4 linked regions of the Homo sapiens genome follow. The protein of the gene in region 4 interacts with the protein of the main gene of each other region in a pairwise test. Each region holds a gene or a part of one and is shown on either strand. Other genes may lie near its edges. The genes, in order: IPO5, PTPA, EIF3B and GPRASP3.

Region 1 (4,982 bases), on a different chromosome or scaffold from region 4:
TAAGCATATGTAAATAATCTTCCAGGATACTGAACTGTGTTCATTTTTCCATATGATTCTTAGTGGAGTTTAACTTTGGACTCCAAACACCCCAAATCTTATGGATTGCTTTCTTTCCTCAACCTCATTAGTGCATTGAAGTAATGGGAGATGGATGCCTTAATAATGAACACTTTGAAGAACTGGGAGGTATATTGAAAGCAAAGCTTGAAGAACATTTTAAAAATCAAGAATTACGACAAGGTAAGTTTTCCATGCTTTTATTTCTGAATATAATCCTTGACCATCTTGGCAATCATTTAAAACATTTATTTGGGTGTGTTTTAGTTAAAAGACAAGATGAAGACTATGATGAACAGGTCGAAGAGTCACTACAAGATGAGGTAAGTTATTCCCTTTGGAACTTACTTACGTGACCACTTGCATCTGAAAGACTTGTAAATGCCTCAATTTCTGATTTATGTGACTTGTCATTCTGATGTAATTATCAGTCTTTAGCAGAGGAGTCAGATATATTTCCTCTCTTAATTTATGAATAAGTAATTTGAAATTAAACTGATATGTCTTTCGGTGCTATGTGCATTTTGTTGTAATACCTCACTCAACAAAACACCTTGAGGTTTACCTAGTTCATTTACATACTGCTCACAACAACCATTTGTATTTTGTGGTGCTTTCACTATATTAAAGATGAGTAACCTAAAATTCCAGTGTTAAATGATTGCCTAGAGTCACACTGTTGACGGTCTGGGGCCTTTTTCACCATGTTACTTAGTTCTCTCATCAAACCACCTAGGACTGTCAAGCATACTTCATTGTGTGTTTAGAGTCCAGCATCTCATATGTGGCCACTTGGTGGGCCAGTGCTACCGTGTAGGTAGTACCAGCTTCCTGAAGGTGCCCACATGCTTGTAGGCCCAAATTGCCACTAACAGCGAGACCCCATTCTCCCCACCATCCACCCCGAAATGAGGATTATTCTGCTGAAAACAAAGTAAAAATAGTGAAAACACCTTTGTTTCAGAATGTAGAAATTAGAGATAATTTTTCAACCCATCTATTTTAAGTATGTTCCAAGGAAAATCTTTGCAATAAATACAGTTCTTGCCACACACCTTTGTCTTTCGAGGTAAGACTGGCCTTTGATTAGTAAGAGACATGATAACCCACACTTGAGGGTTACTCCGGTCTCTAGACTCTTGATTTACCCTTAAAACAGGAATGAGAAATTGATTTTCTGCATTTTTTAAGGTTTTTATAAATGTTACTATTGATAATAGAAAATATACTTTTTAATCCATATGAGTGTTTATGTGTATGTTTTTTTTAGGATGATAATGATGTTTATATTCTGACCAAAGTGTCAGATATTTTACACTCAATATTCAGTAGCTACAAAGAAAAGGTGTTACCATGGTTTGAACAGCTGCTTCCATTAATTGTCAACCTCATTGTAAGTGTTACCTCTCTTAATAGTTGTTTTGCGTAGTTTACCTGGAATTCTTTTCACTGCAACGTAAAATCTAATGCTTGAAGTTAAAATGGGTCTCAGAAATGATTGTTTCCATTGTACATCTTTGATTTTATCAAGTTGACTGCATTACCCTGGATATTTTCTCATTCATTATATGCTTGAAGATTCCTAACTTGGTTTTCCATAGGCCAATTCAGTTCTAACACATCTGAAAGATATATAAGTGATTTTTTTTATTATTTCAGATTATCTGTGCCCTCCTAAATTAATAAAAGGAAACAGAATGGTTACTTCTTTTTTAGTGGACCATAGATAATTCAATTATCTTTGTTATGTACTACCAGCAATCATGGATTATGGATAATGGGCATATATATATATATATGTATTTTTTTTTTACCTTCTCTCACCCTTATATTTGATTTTTTTAAAATGTTTTATAGACTTCTTTTTGTTTGTTTGTTTGTTTGTTTTTCTCAAGATGGAGTCTTGCTCTGTCGCCCAGGCTGGAGTGCAGTGGTGCAATCTCGGCTCACTGCAACCTCCGCCTTCTGGGTTCAAGCAATTCAGACGCACGCCACCACACCCGACGAATTTTTTGTATTTTAGTAGAGATGGGGTTTCACCATGTTGACCAGGCTGGTCTCCAACTCCTGACCTAGTGATCCACCCGCCTCGGCCTCCCAAAGTGCTGGGATTACAGGCATGAGCCACTGCGCCCAGGCCTACGCTTCCTATTTTAAAGCAGTTTTAGATTCACAACCAAATTGAACAGGAGGTACAGAGATTTCCCATGTGCCTCTGCCCCTGTGCGTGCATGGCCTCAGCACCATTAACACCCCCCATCACAGTAGTAGATACATGTGTTTCTGTTATGGACCTACATCAACACATCATATAATGGCCTATGTGTATTCAGTTTTTTTGTTTGTTTTGTTTTTTTGTATTTTTAGTTGTGTTTTTTTGTTGGGTTTTTAGTAGAGATGGGGTTTCACCATATCGGCCAGACTGGTCTCAACCTCCTGACCTTGTGATCCGCCCACTTTGGCCTCCTAAAGTGCTGGGATTACAGGCGTGAGCCACCTCGCCTGGCTGTGTATTCGGTTTTTAAAAAATATATTATAAATTAGCAGCTATCATCAGATGTTTGGAATTTTTCTTTTTGGCTTTCAATTTTGCATTTTATTGTATTAAGTAGTGCAGTACATTTTTTAAAAGATTCGGGCACACATGACTTAGCCTGTTGAATAAATGCTATAAGTTAAGATCTTTGCAGCTTTTATTATTATTGTATTTTTTTAATGTAGCATTACCATTGTCTTTTTTACAAAGTAAATTTATATACAATGCTTCCACTGTCAGTTCTTCTGTGTGATAGTGTCAGATTGTAGAGTTCTGTAACAAATCATACAAGTCTTTGAAACCTAAATTTTATTAAATCTGTGTATTTGATTGAATATCGTTGGTCACAAGAAGTGGTTGTTACTATGTTTTCTTTTTTCTTTTGCCTGTATGAGGAATATCAATGTAAGCAGATAGTCTATAGTGAATATTTCTTTACATTCTTTGTGTACACCAGTATTTGAAGCTTAAAAGAGAATTTCTTTTGTAGTGTCCACATAGACCATGGCCAGACAGACAATGGGGATTATGCATCTTTGATGATGTCATAGAACACTGTAGTCCAGCCTCATTTAAATACGCAGAATATTTCTTAAGACCAATGCTCCAATATGTATGTGACAACAGCCCAGAAGTCAGGCAAGCAGCTGCATATGGCCTGGGAGTCATGGCACAGTACGGTGGAGATAATTATCGCCCTTTTTGTACAGGTACGTTTGCTTATTCCGTTACGTGCATTTCATTCCAGACATCCTGTGAATCCCTACTTTACTCTCTTTACCACACTCCCAAACATTATTTGCCTATTTCTGCTGTAGTCTGTTTTCAGACATCTCATCTGTAGCATTTAGGATTTTAGATGATAAAAAGATGATTTATTCTCATAGAAATAGAATCAAAGACATCCCCTGCCCCCAGCCTTCCAGGGTGCATTTCTCTTTGCGTTTTGGCAATATACAACAGCCTTAGAATAGGACTTTTTTTTTTTTCTTTAATTGAGGCCCAGGCTGGAGTGCAGTGGCATGATCTCGGCTCACTGCAACCTCCGCCTCCCGGGTTCGAGCAATTCTGCTTCAGCCTCCTGAGTAGCTGGGACTACAGGCGCATGCCACCACGCCTGGCTAATTTTTTCTATTTTTAGTAGAGATGGGGTTTCACCATGTTAGCCAGGATGGTCTCGATCTCCTGACCTCGTGATCGGCCCACCTCAGCCTCCCAAAGTGCTGAGATTACAGGCGTGAGCCACCACACCTGGCAGAATAGGACTTTTAAAACTTACTGGGGAATATAGTTAGGCAGCTTTTAAAGTTTAAGGACCCTCGGGTGATGTGATGAGTACTGTAAATCTGGAGGCCACTAATCTCTCTGGGTCTCTAAGTTAGTAGAGGGCTAGTGCTCCTGTCCATGCTGGGGCAGTCCCCCCTCTGTTGCCATTCTGTAATGACATAGCCAAGAAGACAACACTTCCCATACACTTTAACATTTCTTTACCATAATCAATATCTGAACCAAATACAAAAATACATATATTCATTTGCATGAAAATGTGAGGTTTTAGCTGAACTTCTTTCAAATGCTTATTTTAGAAGCACTTCCCCTGCTGGTAAGAGTTATTCAGTCTGCGGATTCTAAGACCAAAGAAAATGTCAATGCTACAGAGAACTGCATCTCAGCAGTAGGGAAAATCATGAAGTTCAAGCCTGACTGTGTAAACGTTGAAGAGGTCCTTCCACACTGGTTGTCTTGGCTTCCACTACATGAAGATAAAGAAGAAGCTGTTCAGACTTTCAATTATCTGTGTGACCTGATTGAAAGGTAGGAAAGCAGACTGTGACCTTATTTCCTTCTCCTCCACAGTGCTTCCTGGTTTTTCTTGCCTAACATCAGTCTTTTAAGGTTTAACCACATGATCTCTGCACAGTCCTCAGTTGTATAGGTTTATAATAGTGCTGTCTTTATAAATCATATTAAGAAACCATATCACAGTTAACATTGCCCTTATAATAAGGTCTAATTTTGAGTTATTCTTTATGAAATTAGATTCAACAGATGAGGCACTTTAATTATTTATTTCTTTGTTTTTAAATTTTTTTGGTAGCGACAAGGTCTTAACTGTTTTGCACAGGCAGGTCGCAAACTCTTGGCCTCAAGAGATCCTCCCACCTCAGCCTCCCAAAGTGCTGGGATTACAGGCATGAGCCACCAAACCCAGCCTAAGGGAATGTTGTTTAGTGTCTGTTTTCTAAGTCCAAGTTCCCCCCAAATATCAGTCAGATCTAAGCTCTGTCGCTATTATTATTTTTAGGTTATGAATAAATTCAAGGGCTACAACCACTGCCACTATTGTAGCAATAGGCCAACAGGTATATTCTCCATACTTGTTTAA
Region 2 (4,982 bases), on a different chromosome or scaffold from region 4:
GACCCCCAGCAGGCCAGGCCTCTCCAAAGCAACTCTCTCAGACCAGGGCAAGTCTGAGCCCCTGTCCTGACTGCAGCTACACTGGAACACATGGATGAGAAGCAGCAAAGGAAGTGTCACATTTGGATTCAGACAAAGAAGCAGGTTCTCAACTAGAGCAATCTGGCTCAGAGAAGATCTGACAAGATCTGGAGACAATGTTAGTTGTGACAGCTGGGGAAAGGCATGCTGCCAACATCTAGTGGGTAGAAGCCAGAGATATTAGTAAACGTCCTACATGGCACAGGACGGCCTCCTACAATGAAGAATTATCTGCCCCTCAATGTCCATAGTGCTGACATTGAGATGCCCCGAGGTAAAGCAACCAAGATGATGAAAGGACTGAAACCATATCCTTTGAGCAGCTGAAGGGACCAAGCTGCCCCCTAGGCTGAAGGGACTGTTGATCCTGGTGAAGATTCAGAAAAGACATGATAACTATTTCCAAATACTGAGAGGGCAGGCTTGTGAAAAAGGAATCAGACAGGTTTAGATGGCCCCAAGCCCCAGTGAGGACAAGGCATAGAAGCTGTAGGGTGTGGGTCTCCTGGAGAATCTGCCCAGCATGCAAGGACCCCTGTGCCCAGCCTTCTGCATGAGCAACACTCTCCAGCCCAGCTCACCAGGCCGGGAGCAGGAGCCTGACGAGAACTGGGCCAGAGGCCTTCCCTGAGAAATTGAAATTGGCTTTCTTTTGCTCAGTCTGTCTTTCCACAGCCTGTACCACAAGCCTGAGAGGTACAAGTAGTTATCTTCTGCCCATCATTTCAGCTGAGCAGCAGAGAAAGCCAGTCTGTGCCCAGTGCTCTGGGTCCCAGCTCCCAGGTATTTGCAGGCTTAGCCATATCCCTGGCCAAAGTTTCCATGAGATAGCCTCTTCTCCCCTTGAGGCACTGGCTGCCACACTTGCTGTTACTTGCAGCCAAGAATCAAAGTGACTCGCTCCATCATTTCAAACACTCATGTTCAGCCAATACAGCAACACTCAAGGGGCAATGGCTTAAGAGAACCAGGAGCGGAACTCTCCCGGGCTACCCTGGCAGCAGCCTGAAAAAGTAGGCAACCTTCCTGATAAAGCATCTCTGAGTACTGCCTCTGAAGGGAAGAGACAGCCAGCTCCCCTGTCACCTTTCTCCCTAGCTTCTGAAAAGTCAGGCTCCAAGAGCAAGAAGGGCCAGGAACTCACCGCCCGTCATGCTAGGAAAACCACTGTCTTTGAAAAGCCCAAGTTTCTCACCACAGTTCCAAATGGTACCTGAGAACGCTTCCATTTGCCCATGTCTGGAACTGTGTGGATCTCCTTTTTTGGAATGATGAAGTTCTGAGTGGCTGGAGGGGCCTCCTCTGAAGAATCTTGACAAAAAAAAATGAAAAAACAAACAGATAAATAGAATCCTCCCCTACAACACACACACTCCCTTTCACCTTTTTTTTTTTTCTTGAGACGGAGTTTTGCTCTTGTTGCCCAGGCTGGAGTCCAGTGACACGATCTTGGCTCAATGCAACCTCCACCTCCAGGGTTCAAGCGATTCTCCTGCCTCAGTCTCCTGAGTAGCTGAGATTACAGGCACGTGCCACCACACCCAGCTAATTTTTTTTTTTTTCTTTGAGACAGAGTCTCGCTCTGTCGCCCAGGCTGGAGTGCAGTGGCGCGATCTCAGCTCACTGCAACCTCTGCCTCCCGGGTTCAAGCGATTCTCCTGCCTCAGTGTTCTGAGTAGCTGGGATTACAGACGTATGTCACCATGCCTAGCTAATTTTTGCATTTTTAGTAGAGACGGGGTTTCACCATGTTGGCCAGGCTGATCGCAAACTCCTGACCTCAGGTGATCCACCCGCCTTGGCCTCCAAAGTGTTGGGATTACAGGTATGAGCCAAAGCGCCCGGCCTCTCTCTCACTTTTAAACCAGGACTCCAACACCTGAGCCTTAGAATAAACCAGACACATACTTCCAGGACAGAGTAAGGGCTTGTTAAGCCAAACCCACAGCCTCCTGCCCTCCCTCACTCTGGGGAGGAAAGAGAAGGGCAATACTGACAATCCCTTCAATAACCATGCCCTCCCTTCCCTCTCCCCCCCAGAGCAGAACCGTTAGAAAAATAAAACCAAGTTGATGTTTCAGACATACACAGGCAATTCACAGAAGAAAAAAAAACAGGTCAGGTGCGGTGGCTCACGCCTGTAATCCCAGCACTTTGGGAGGCCAAGGCAGGCAGATCACAAGGTAAGGAGATCGAGACCATCCTGGCTAACATGGTGAAATCCCATCTCTACTAAAAAAGTACAAAAAAATTAGCCAGGCGTGGTGGCGGGCGCCTGCGGTCCCAGCTACTTGGGAGGCTGAGGCAGAAGAATGGCGTGAACCTGGGAGGCGGAGCTTGTGGTGAGCCGAGATTGCACCACTGCACTCCAACCCAGGCAACAGAGCGAGACTTCGTCTCAAAAAAAAAAAAAAAACCTAATTGCAGTAAACATTTGGAATAAATTGCCAACCTCCTGAATAAGCACGGACACGTAAATTATATGTGATTTCTCTTTCTGGATAAGGTTGGCAAATTAAAAACATCTGGCTAGGTGTGGTGGCTCATACCTAATCCCAGCAATTTGGGAGGCCAAGGCAGGCAGATCACTTGAGGCCAGGGGTTCAAGACCAGGCTGGCCAACTTGGCAAAACGCCATCTTTACAAAAAAAATTTAAAAATTAGCTGGGTGTGGTTGCATACCTGTAGTCCCAGCTACTTGGGAGGCTGAAGCAGGAGGATCACCTGAGTCCAGGAGGTGGGGGTTGCAGTGAGCTGAGATCATACCACTGCACTCCAGCCTGGACAACAGAACGAGACTCTGTCTCAATAAAAACAAAACAAGATTCCAGGAAGAGGAAACAAGAATTCTCCCGCTCTGTGGGTGGGAAGGACCTCCTAAGGGGACAATCTTTTGGAATAAAAAACTGCATATACACAATGAGTCAACAGGTCTACTTACAGGAATCTATCTTTCAGATGTGCTCACGGAAACACAAAGGTGTTTAATGCATCAAAAAAAAAAAAAAAAGCTGGGCATAGTGGCTCACACCTGTAATCTCAGCACTTTGGGAGCCCCAGGTGGGAGGATCACTTGAGTCCAGGAGTTTGACACCAACCTGGGCAACACAGCGAGACCCCATCTCTACTTTAAAAAAAAAAAAATTTTAGGCGGGGCGCGGTGGCTCATGCCTACAATCCCAGCACTTTGGGAGGCCAAAGTGGGTGGATCACACCTGAGGTCAGGAGTTGGAGATGCGCCTGACCAACATAGTGAAACCCCATTTCTACTAAAAATATAAAATTATTCAGGTGTGGTGGCGCATGCCTATAATCCCAGCTACTTGGGAGGCTGAGGAAGGAGAATTGCTTGAACCAGGAGGCAGAGGTTGCAGTGAGCCAAGATCGTGCCATCGCACTCCAGCCTAGGCAACAAGAGTGAAACTCTGACTCAAATAAAAAAATTTTTTATTAATTAGAAACAACCCAAATAGGCTGGGCGTGGTGGCTCACACCTGTAATCCCAGCACTTTGGGAGGCCAAGACAGGCAGATCACGAGATCAGGAGTTCGAAACCAGCCTGGCCAACAAGGTGAAACCCCATCTCTACTAAAAATACAAAAATTAGCCAAGTGTGGTGGCGCACACCTGTAATCCTAGCTACTCAGGAGGCTGAGGCAGGAGAATTGCCTGAACCCAGGAGGCAGAGGTTACAGTGAGCTGAGATCGTGCCATTGCGCTCCAGCTCTGGTTGACAGAGCAAGACTCCATCTCGGGGGAAAAAAAAAAAAAAGAAACAACTCAAATATCAGTTGATAAGACAATGGGTAAATAATGATATGCCCAGGTCCGGCATGGTGACTCACACCTGTAATCCCAGAACTTTGGGAGGCTGAGGTAGGTGGATCATTTGAGGTCAGGAGTTCCAGACCAGGCCTGGGAAACATATTGAAACCCCATCTCTACTAAAAAATACAAAAATTAGCCTGACATGACGGCACACACCTGTAATCCCAGCTACTTGGGAGGCTGAAGCAGGAGAATCGCTTGAACTGGGGAGGCAGAGCTTGCAGTGAGCTGGACCGTTCCACTGCACTCCAGCCTGGGTGACAGAGTGAGACTGTCTTAAAAAAAAAAAGAGGCTGGGTGTGGTGGCTCACACCTGTAATCCCAACACTTTGGGAATCCGAGGCGGGTGGATCACTTGAGGCCAGGAGTTCAAGACCAGCCTGGCCAACATAGCGAAATTCCACCTCTACTAAAAATACAAAAAATTAGCCAGGCATGGTGGCGCACACCTGTAATCCCAGCTACTCGGGAGGCTGAGGCAGAAGAACCGCTTGAACCCAGGAGGCAGAGGTTGCAGTGAGCCAAGATCACGCCACTGCACTCCAGCCTGGGCAACACAGCAAGACTCCGTCTCAAATTTAAAAAAGAGAAAAAAAAGATAGGCCCACATAATAAAAATTTTCATAGCTTATAAAATGAATAAAATCTAGGCCAGGCACAGTGCCTCCCGCCTATAATCCCAAAACTTCGGGAGGCCGAGGCAGGCAGATTGCTTGAGTCCAGGAGTTTGAAACCAGCCTGGACCACATGGCCAAACCCCATCTCTACAAAAAATACAAAAATTAGCCAGGTGTAGTGGTGCACACCTGTAGTCCTAGCTATTCGGGGGCTGAGGCGGGAGGATCACTTGAGCCCAGGAGGCTGAGGCTGAAGTGAGCTGCACTCCAGCCTGGGTGACAGAGCAAGACCCTGTCTTGAAAACAAAAAAAAATTAGAAACAACCCAAATATCAGTTGATAAGATGATGTGTAATTAATTATATGCCCACATAATGGAAATTTTCATAACTTGTAGAAAGAAGAAAATCTAGACCAGGCACAGTGGCTAACACTTGTAATCCCAGCACTTTGGGA
Region 3 (4,982 bases), on a different chromosome or scaffold from region 4:
TTTTTTTTTTTAATGGGGCTAGGGTTTCGCTATGTTGCTCAGGCTAGTCTCAAACTCCTGGGTTCAAGTGATTTTTCTACCTCTGCCTCCTGAAGTGCTGGGATTACAGGTGTGAGCCACTGTGCCTGGCCTAAAGTGATTTCAAGTGTCAAGGCAGGCCCCACCGCAGTGACATCTGAACATACCTGGACACAGGCTGTGATCAACATATCCTGATTCGAATGCGAAGATTTCTAACTCTAGACACTTGCAGTAACATTTGGGAAGTTGATATTCCTACAAATTCTGTATCTCATTAAACAAAATTACCCGCGTTTGGTTTCACAGGCTCTATTGGCATGGACTAGTTCAAGTATCAGTGCCTCCATCAATGTTTTTACAAGTCACTAAATACTGAAAGTCCTTGACAAACTTAACCAGCAGTTTTGGAATACGAGTTGTGGGTAACGCGGCAGCTGGACTCAACCACTGACCCCAAAACAGATCTTAATGTCTGCGGTTATGGAACTCTGTTCAGACTTCAAAGGAAACGACTCCTCTCTGCAGACATTCTCACTCCTTTTCAGGGGTCCCTGGGCCCAGGGTAAGACCCCCCACCTCCCCGCAACCATGAGCAGGGGCTGCTCCTGCACTCGGCGCCACCTCTTCTACAACCCAGAATCCTCCTCCTCCTGCCACTAACACCAGCCAAGGCTTCTGTTCAACACAGAGGCTTGGTGCCCCTTCCCTGAGGTCCCAGGACAGCACCAGAGTCAGCAGCTAGCCAGCACTCCCTGCTTCTATCCACAGTCAAAACTATGCCCCACAGGCCTGCACCTTATGGCTCCACCAGGACACAGAGGTGACGACGTAGCGCCCAGTAGGATCCCATTCGACGTCGGAAGCCATGTAGTGCTCTGCGATGTTCATGACCGTGCAGTCCGAAGTGTCCACAAACGCTAAGGCACCGTTCATACTGCAAAGACAGACAGGACCGTCAGGCTTCATGGAGACGCATACCTCCTGGCATCCCACTCCTGAGAGGTGCTGCGGCATGGGGTCCCCAGGGAGCCAGCCTCGGCGTTAACATGGAAACAAGCACAGCAACAGCCTCTGGTGGCCGCTGTGAGACTTACCAAATCACAGATGCAGAGTGTGCAGTGAGTATTACATATGACTGCCATCATATTATTTTTACTGGAAATGTTATCTGAGGCTAAGTAAGCCTCCAAAAATACAGTAGCAAGTGTGGACAATGAAGCAAGGGAGAGCAGCAACAAAAGGGTATTCTTTTAACTCAGAGCAGAAAGCTGGAAGCTTCTCCATGATTTCGACACACTGCTGGAACACAGCTGAGACCGACACCGTGACACCAACCACAAAGGTAAGGCAGCCTCACAGCTGTGTAACGAATACCCTTCCCACTAGAAGACAAGGGACTGACCCCCGGGGGGAGGTTACTGGATGGCTGGAAGGCACTTGTTTAACCACAGAGAACCACAACCCGCAGACAGGTCTGCCTGGTCACTTCACGAAAGCATCTGGGAGCGCTTATTTCACTCTGTGCGGGCTTGGCCTGAGTCCTGGAGTACCGTGGGTCTGCAGAGGTTCAATGAAGTCCTATCCACTGACACTGGGGCAACCCTTTCAGCGCACAATACTCTCTCTACCAAGAAGCCGGGTGCAGGCGCCTGAGGGGTCTCTGCCACAGCAGAGCGCTACTCACAGGGCGGACAGGCTCAGAGCGCAGACACCTACCTCCTCAGGCCCGCCAACACCACGAACTGTCCTTGGGGGCTCCAGAAGATGGTGTTCGCCTGCTGCTTGTCGAACATCTCTGAAAGGAAAGAGCGCGCCTGTCACGAGCTGCGAGGGCTTCCACAGTGCCGGGGCAGCCAAGGCTGGAGGACTTGGCCGTGCTCATGCTGCCCATGAGGGCAGAGCTGGTAATGCTGGACCACCTCGGAAAACAATTTTACAAAGTCCATCGCCAAGTACCCCCTAAGTCATGATCCATACTTTAAATGGGAAAAAAAAGAAGATGCGACAGGGGTATTTCAAAACAATACTATCTTATTTCCTGAGGTAACTGGACAAAGAATTCCCTTTACAGCAAATGTTCACTGCTGCAGGGACCCCAACAGAGAGATGTCAGAGACGTGTGACCCCAAAAGACCAAAGCCACTCTCCTAGCGACAAGGCGTCTTTGGATAAGCTGTATGCTTGTTGAAACTGACTACAGTCATCATCTTTGCAGGTACTAACTCTTACTTCCGGAATGGATCTCGGGCAGAGCCGCTGGAACAGTGAGAAGTGAAGGCCAGCTGGGGCTGGCTCAAGTCCCCCTCAGAGCATATGCTCCCTGCATCTCAAACAGAGCTGACAACCTGTGGCCTCTCTCCCCTCAGCCTGTGGTACATCCAAAAAAGAGGCATGGGGCAGGCTGACGTGGGGAGGAGGGGAGGAGATGTGGGAGGGCAGTGCACCCTGGCAGGGGCAGGGGTCTCAGACTTGCACAAGCGAAAACCCCAACAGCCACGGGCATGGGATGGAGCCCATGCGGTGGCCCCAGCGTCCATGCCAAACCTCAGGAGAGGCGTGTCACGCAGCATGTTTGGAAGGTACAAGGTGCCTCTGCTTGCCTATGTTTTATGACCTAGAAGACTTACACAAGTCTCTGGACAGTCTGCAATTGCCCATATGTTTCTATCAACCAGAATTAATGAAACAGCCAATCTTGTAATCCACTGCCAACTGAGGGCACCACGCACCCTGCCAAGCTCTAGCAAAGTGAAAACTAAACTCCTCACAGAATCATGCTGCGAAAGGTGCGGCCAGGAGATTCCAACCCCTTCCTGGTACAGAGCCAAACCCATGGCTCTGCAGGAGGGCAGCTGGCAGCCAGAGTCCTGTGTGAGGAACACAGCCCATCGCCACCTCCTGGCTACCACACACACACACCCCACGCCTATGAAGCAACAAGCAATGGCTCATTCAATCCCCGCGGGCACCGGGCTCTGTGCTGAGCAGAGACCCCAGGATGAAGTGAGGAGCTGAGGGCACAGGCAGCAGGTGCCGTGAGACAGGCGAGGGCCCACGCACCACTGTGAGGAGCGAGCCCCAGGTGGGTGCAGTGTGGCACCCCTGGAACCGGGTGCACGGGGGCAGAGTACAGCTGTGTGCAACAGCTCTGCGCACCCTGGTCAAAGGCACCTGACCCAGACTGGGGACTGGCAGGAGTATGTCCACAGGAAGTGACCCCAAGCCCAGGGACAGCAGCTACAGCCAGAAGAGAAAAAGCTTCACTTGAGATGATGGCAGAGAATGGAAGCCTTGGAAATACTCGCTTAAACGTGAGGGCTCAACGGGGCTCAGAGAGACACCCTGCAAGGAGGCGGCACCTCCAGGCCATCGCTCACTTCCATCAGCCGAGGCCACACCCCATTCATAGGCGAGTCCCGGCCTGCCCAGCAGTGGTCCTAGGCCAGTCAAATGCTCACTGTTGGGCAGCGACTGGGTCATCATCTGTGCTGACCTACTCAGAAGAGGAAAGGGACCAGGTTACTTACTGATGAGTTCAATCTTCCCGTTGTTTTTGACGTGGTAGAAAGACACAGATATCCGCGGAGCCTCTCCGTGCAGCACAGCAAACTTACTTCCATTTGGTTCCCAGGCAAAGGCTATGATGGTTTCTAAAATGCACAAAACAGACCCCTCCCTTTTTGGTCAATTCAGAACATAGTGCTCTTGATCAGTTAAAATGTTCACTATTCAACCACAGAGAAATATCCCCCGACGTGTAAAAGTTCATTAAAAGGACGGGAGAGCAAGCAACAGCAGGAAAGGTGCACATTCCTGGAGTTTCAGAGACAGCTGCTTCCACTTGTGTGGAGTGACCTACGTGAAACTGCTCCCTTCCTGAGAGCAGGACACCCACAGCAGGACCGCAGGAGCCCGACATTGTCAGCAGCTGTGGATGCCGCTTCCCTCGCACCCAGTGTGCACCTACAGTGGGATCCTGACCTCCGGTCTCCCTGCCTGGAAGGGCGGCCATGTTTCCCATTTTCTCACCTATTTTTAACCCTTCCTTCCTCCTTTTCTCCATGGCAAAACAAAAAGCCAAACAAGAACACAGGCTCAATCTCTTTTCTCTTTTTTTTAGACAGGGTCTTGCTCCGTCACCCAGGCTGGAGTGCAGGGGCGCAATCTCAGTTCACTGCAACCTCTGCTCCTGGGCTCAAGTGATCCTCCCGCTTCAGCGTCTCAAACAGCTGGGACTATCGGTGCGCACCACCACACCTGGCTAATTTTTTTTATTTGTTTTTTGTACAGAGAGGGTCTCACTATGTTGCCCAGGCTCTAAACACGTTCTGTGACCTGGAGATGACTATTCATGGTGAGGGCTCACAGTCCTGACTCAGCTGCTCAGACAACCCCTCGCATGGAAGTGTTAAAGCCAAGAGTAAAACAGCACGTAGGCCCCATTCGCCTCAAAGTGACTAAAATACAACTTGCCTTTCATCTCGACCACATCCACAGGTACCTGTTTCTCCCTCATTCGGAAAATTTCAAAATTTGTGACAACACCCTGTTTAAAAAAAAGGGGGAAGGGGTGACATTCTGGACAGTGAAAATATGAGAAAAGGTTTAAATCAAAGATCAACGTCACAATGAAAGATTCAGTGTGCATGCCTGGTTCACACACGAGCATGTGCAGTGATGAAAGCCACAGCCCTCAGGATGGAAGACGGTTCTAAGGCTGGAGAACTGCCGGCACCACGTCTACTGGAAGCCACTGGACATGCATGAAGTAACTCTGACCCAGATCCCACCTCCAGGAGCCGCCCTGCCCGCCACACTTGGGCACAAGCAGTCCCAGGGTCCACACTGCAGGCTGCAGGCCAGGGTCCTGAGGGCCCTAAAGGCACACCAATGGGGCTGGGTAAACCACTTCAGACAGTGGGGTGTCCTGTAGCCATAACCTTCAAGAAGTCCTGCCCTAC
Region 4 (4,982 bases):
CCTGTGATTCCAGCACTTTGGGAGGCCAAGGTGGGAGGGTCACTTGAGTGCAGGAATTCAAGACTGGCCTGGGCAATGCAGTTATACCTTGTTTCTACAAAAAATCTTTAAAAATTGAAAAATATATATATTATTGGTAATGAAGTCTGAGGAACTGTAACTTAATGCTAGGAGAGAAAAGTTGTCTATGTCACTACCACCACCACCACCATCAAGAGGCAGTGCATGATACTATTAGAATCTATAGTTTACATTAACTGCCTAATGATTGTTAAGTGCTTGCTTAGACTAGAGTAACTAGTTTCTGAGCCCTGGGAGTACATTCTAAAGGGAGTTTGTACAGAAGAGTTGGGAGTACCCAGATTTCAGAGCCAGACAGTCCAAAGTCTGAATACAGACTTTGTCACTATTTGTGTAACTTTAGCAAAGGTACTTAACGTCTTTATAACCCAGTTTCTTCATCCTTAAAAGGGAGCTGGCATTAACTACTTTACAGGATTATTGTGTATACTGAGAAAACTATTTGATATCCTGCACAACATGTGTATATCAGATCTTTCTAGTTCTTTTAAAATTTCTGATCTATTCCTATTATGGAGTGGGCTGGAGAAAGCAAGAAAGAATAGATGAGAACTACATGGTTTTTAAAGGTCATAATTGCTAAGTCAGTGTCACTGTGCTCTTTGTGCTGTAGCCTCAGTGCTTTGTATATTCTGTGTTGCTTACCATAACCCTTTACTAAAAGGATGCCATTTTTGCATAGTTGCCACTGCAGGTTACTGACTTTCTCCTCCTTTTAGTCACATGTCACAGAGAGGCTAATTCCATTTCCAAGAGTGAGTCTCTTTGGTCTACGGATAATCTATCCCCTTGGTACTCTCTTGTTTAGGAAGAGGCATTGATCAAATTCCACTCAATGTGACATTAGGGGAAGGTTACAGATGGACTTCTGAGGAAAGTGTCCTCATTCATAAGACAAAGTCATCAGAAAAGATTGTCTTTTCTTCTTCCTCAGGAAGTTGCTTACCTCCTGGAATTGTTGTAGCCATCAAGCTATCAGCCTTAGGACGGAAGTTGATATTGTGAATGGCAGAAGAAAGAGACGGAAAAAAGCTGAGTCCTTCGCTGAATTAAACAACCATCAAGGCTGCCCTACGTCAGTACTTACAATCATTGGATAATTAATTTCCTTATTAAGTTAGTTTTAGTTGAATTCCTTGTTATATGAAAATGGAACAATCCTAGATGTGCTCAGGCACAAAACAGCTCTTCAGTGAGTAAGAATTCCTGACTTGTGTCCATCAGTGAGCATCAGTGAGCACCTACATCTGCAGTAGCAGAACTCATGTTTCCCAGGAAAGAAAAGCCAGAAATTCTCAACACGTGTCCTAATGATTGCTAGAGGTCTGACAACTGTTTGGCTTCTGCTCCAGATTAAAAAGTAAAGCTTTAGGCAGAAGCCAAACTCTGACTTATCTAGGAGGTCCAGAGGTACATTAAATACTTAAGATAATAGATAAACCTAGTTTCAATTCAGAGGATCATTGTGTGAAGGTGCACCCTTGTGAAATATCCAGATTATAAAGATATCAAAGGTTACCTGCTTTCAGTTCAGGGGACTGTGCTGATATTGAGAAAGACACATTTACAGTGTCGACAGTTAGAACAATATGATTAATTTTCCCAGGTGCACTAAACAACAAAGGTATAGAAAGTCGTAGATACTTGAGATTTATCCAGAGTTGGGGTTTCTCCAGGACAGTGGAGCCAGGCACTAGAGGATGAGGTAGAAGAGTAGTAAAAATAAGTACTGTGATGGGCATTGGGTTGGGAAGGAAGGAAAGGGTGGAATAGGCTGATAAACAGGGAAAAAAGGATAAGGGACAGGAGGTCTAACAATATTCAGGTTTAATTTCTTTATGATAAATACTTTGCTACAAGCTTTGAGGAACAGAAGATCTGATTGTAAAAACAGTTACAATGATCATGGATGCTTTTATTGATAACTAGCACTGGAGGAATATAGACATAGCATAGAAGTAATGCACATCAGCTCCAGATTCAAACCACAAAGGTGGGAATGTCACCTCCTCTGCTAACCAACTCAGTGAGGTTGGCTAAGCTACTTAACCAATGTGTGCCTCAGCTTCCTCATATGTAGAATGGAAACAATAGCAGCACCTACCTCATAAGTTTGTTTTGAGGATTAACTAAGTGAATACATTTAGAGCCCTTAGTAGAGTACCCTGGCACATAGAAATCACCCAATAAATCCAATAAATCTTAATATTAACACAAATTACTATTTTAAGTAGTAAACATTCAGGCTTTGCAGTCAGACAGACTGGGGTTTGAATCACACTTCCAGAGTCCAAGCTTCTTTCTCTATGCTTCCTGTCCCTCAACACTAGTTCTATGTTATTCATTAAAAAATAAAAATAAAAAAATAAAAAGACTCTGATGCATGGTATAAAGAAACAAGTGGGATGGGCGCAGTGGCTCACGCCTGTAATCCCAGCACTTTGGGTGGCCGAGGCGGGTGGATCACCTGAGGTCAGGAGTTCAAGAGCAGCCTGGCCAACATGGCAAAACCCTGTCTCCACTAAAAATACAAAAATTAGCCGGGCATAAATTAATGGTGCAAAAATCAGTGGTGTGTGCCTGTAATCCCAGCTACTAGCGGGGCTGAGGCAGGAGGATCGCTTGAACTTGGGAGACAGAAGTTGCAGTGAGCTGAGATCGTGCCACTGCACTCCAGCCTGGGTGACGAAGTGAGACTCCGTCTCAAAAAAAAAAAAAAAAAGAAACAAGTGGCCAAGTGGCAAATAAAATATTGTGTAAGTACAAAGAATGGAGGAATTACTTCCTACCAAGGGGCAAGGGATAAGGGCGAGGAGGTATCAGACTTCAAAAAGGCCCTGGCATTTGAACTGAGCCCAAATGATGTTTCCCATAGACAGAAAAAGGGTAAGAACATTGAAGATTGAAGGGACAGCATGTGGGAAAGGCATAAAAGTAGTAAAGCACACAATACAGTTGGGAAAACAACAGATTTTCCAGTGGGGCTTGACTGCAGGCAAAGTGGGGCAAGGCCTGGAATAGTGTGAGGCACTTGAGAACAAGAGCTTCTTTCTTCATTTCATTCTAGTCCTGGCCTTGACTTGGAAGAATGTTATGAGAGATGGAGATAGAAAGGCAGACTTGTATTAAAGGGTGCAAGGTTGTGAAAGCCTTGATAGAAAATCTGGTGGTATTTTATAGATGAGATCCCATTGAAGGTTGCTCTTTTGAAATTGGGGGCAGAGTTGAGAATTAGTGGCTGCTAAAAGTCCAGACTAGACAGATGAAAAATTCACTCTGATACTATCCCCACACAACAACATTTTAGGCCAAGTGACATCTGAAGTAGCCTCTATTATATAAAGTAGCCCATAATATTTATCAAAAAAGGGAGAAGGAACAAGAGGACTGAGTGAATGATGAAGTTTTTATTTCAACTACACCCCAGAAAAATAATTGAGGAAGGATTCTACCCGCTACAAGTCAGAACAAAGGCAATCATCATTTTGCTTGGATACACACACACACACACACACACACACACACACACACCAGTCACCCTGCTCTTCGGCTGAGATTAAAAAATTCTACAGGCATAAACTGTTTAAGTATCTGCTTTGGAGTACATTTGGGACTTAGAAGTATTTAATCAGGCCACAATTTGAAGTTTTCTAAATATAAATGCAATACCCACAACAGGAATTCTAGGCTAAGGGAGCTGTGATAAGAAAAAAAATGATGACAGGATAGATGGATAGATAGATTAGATAGATAGACACATAGATAGATATAGATAAATAGATACATAGATAATTTTAAAAATTATCTAAATTACAGGTACATGCCACAAAAACAGACTGCTTTTTTCACCCATAATACACTGTTGGGTCTGAATCCTTCATTTTAACTTGTTGATGTAGAATACACAGCAAAGGTAAGCTTTATGTATATTAATCTAGGTGTGGCTGCTAAAACTAGGGAAAATTACACTATTGTTCTGATATCAAATATTTGAAACCAACTACTTGGAGTTAGCATTGGACTCCACAGGTTTAAGGGCACAATCACCAACAATACTGCCCCCACTTTAGATCAGATACCAGCCCCAATTCTCAGGAAGCCACCCATGCTTCTGACTGACCACTTATAAATTCAGGAGTTCCTATGACATTATGAGGTTTCATAATTAACTGAAACAACTCGTAGAACTCAAGAAAAGTGCTATTCTTATTATTACAGTTTCATTTAAGGATATACACAGGACAAGGTCTGAAAGCATTCTGGACACAAAGCTTCCATACCCTCTCCTTATGGAGTCAGGGTACACCACTCTCCCTAGAGAACAATATGTTCACCAACCAAGAAGCTCCACTTATCCCTGAAGTTCAAAGTTTTCACTGGGGTTTTATTACATAGGCAAGATTGATTAAACCATTGGTTGTGATTGAACTTAATACCTAGCCCCACTACCTTCCCTGAAGGTTGAGCTGGCCCAAAGTTCCAACCCTTTAATCACATGGTTGGTCCTTCTGGTGACCAGTCCCCATCCTGAAGCTATCTAGGGGCCCACCATAAGTCACTTCATTAGCATAACAAAGATACTCCTGTCACACAGGAAATTCCAAGATTTTTTGAAGCTGTGTCAGCAACTAGGGATAAAGATCAGCTATATTCTCTATTATACCACACCATACTTGAAGTCTTCTCTGTTGACATACTCGAAAAAACACACAGAGACAAGAGACAAGACAGCTTGAGTAGAAAACCATAAGCTGAATGCTGGCCCCAGTACTTATATTATCAGAATTCTGGAGAGTAAAGAGAAGAAAATAATAGGAGAGGGTAGGAGACGAGGATGCAGTCCTAGGGACTAATCTCTACCTATGATTTTGCCCCACATACCTTGTATCTATCCTAGCTTT

The links.
Region 1: the proteins of GPRASP3 (region 4) and IPO5 interact in a two-hybrid assay, tested with the Homo sapiens proteins (one study listed by BioGRID).
Region 2: the proteins of GPRASP3 (region 4) and PTPA interact in a two-hybrid assay, tested with the Homo sapiens proteins (one study listed by BioGRID).
Region 3: the proteins of GPRASP3 (region 4) and EIF3B interact in a two-hybrid assay, tested with the Homo sapiens proteins (one large-scale study listed by BioGRID).

What each region holds. Positions count from the first base shown.
Region 1 is NC_000013.11:98,015,399-98,020,380, forward strand, and holds part of IPO5 (importin-5), read left to right. Parts: intron 1-131; coding exon 132-243; intron 244-327; coding exon 328-383; intron 384-1,330; coding exon 1,331-1,453; intron 1,454-3,086; coding exon 3,087-3,306; intron 3,307-4,182; coding exon 4,183-4,411; intron 4,412-4,982. UniProt on the Homo sapiens protein: Functions in nuclear protein import as nuclear transport receptor. Serves as receptor for nuclear localization signals (NLS) in cargo substrates.
Region 2 is NC_000009.12:129,116,923-129,121,904, reverse strand, and holds part of PTPA (serine/threonine-protein phosphatase 2A activator), read right to left. Parts: intron 1,393-4,982; coding exon 1,295-1,392; intron 1-1,294. UniProt on the Homo sapiens protein: PPIases accelerate the folding of proteins. It catalyzes the cis-trans isomerization of proline imidic peptide bonds in oligopeptides. Acts as a regulatory subunit for serine/threonine-protein phosphatase 2A (PP2A).
Region 3 is NC_000007.14:2,371,362-2,376,343, reverse strand, and holds part of EIF3B (eukaryotic translation initiation factor 3 subunit B), read right to left. Parts: intron 4,568-4,982; coding exon 4,495-4,567; intron 3,672-4,494; coding exon 3,549-3,671; intron 1,817-3,548; coding exon 1,738-1,816; intron 956-1,737; coding exon 817-955; intron 1-816.
Region 4 is NC_000023.11:102,723,349-102,728,330, reverse strand, and holds part of GPRASP3 (G protein-coupled receptor associated sorting protein 3), read right to left. Parts: exon of another isoform or gene 3,470-4,982; intron 1-3,469. UniProt on the Homo sapiens protein: Survival and differentiation promoting protein that plays a role in the regulation of neurosynaptogenesis. Induces phosphatase PP2A activity which results in APP dephosphorylation and inhibits BACE1-mediated processing of APP.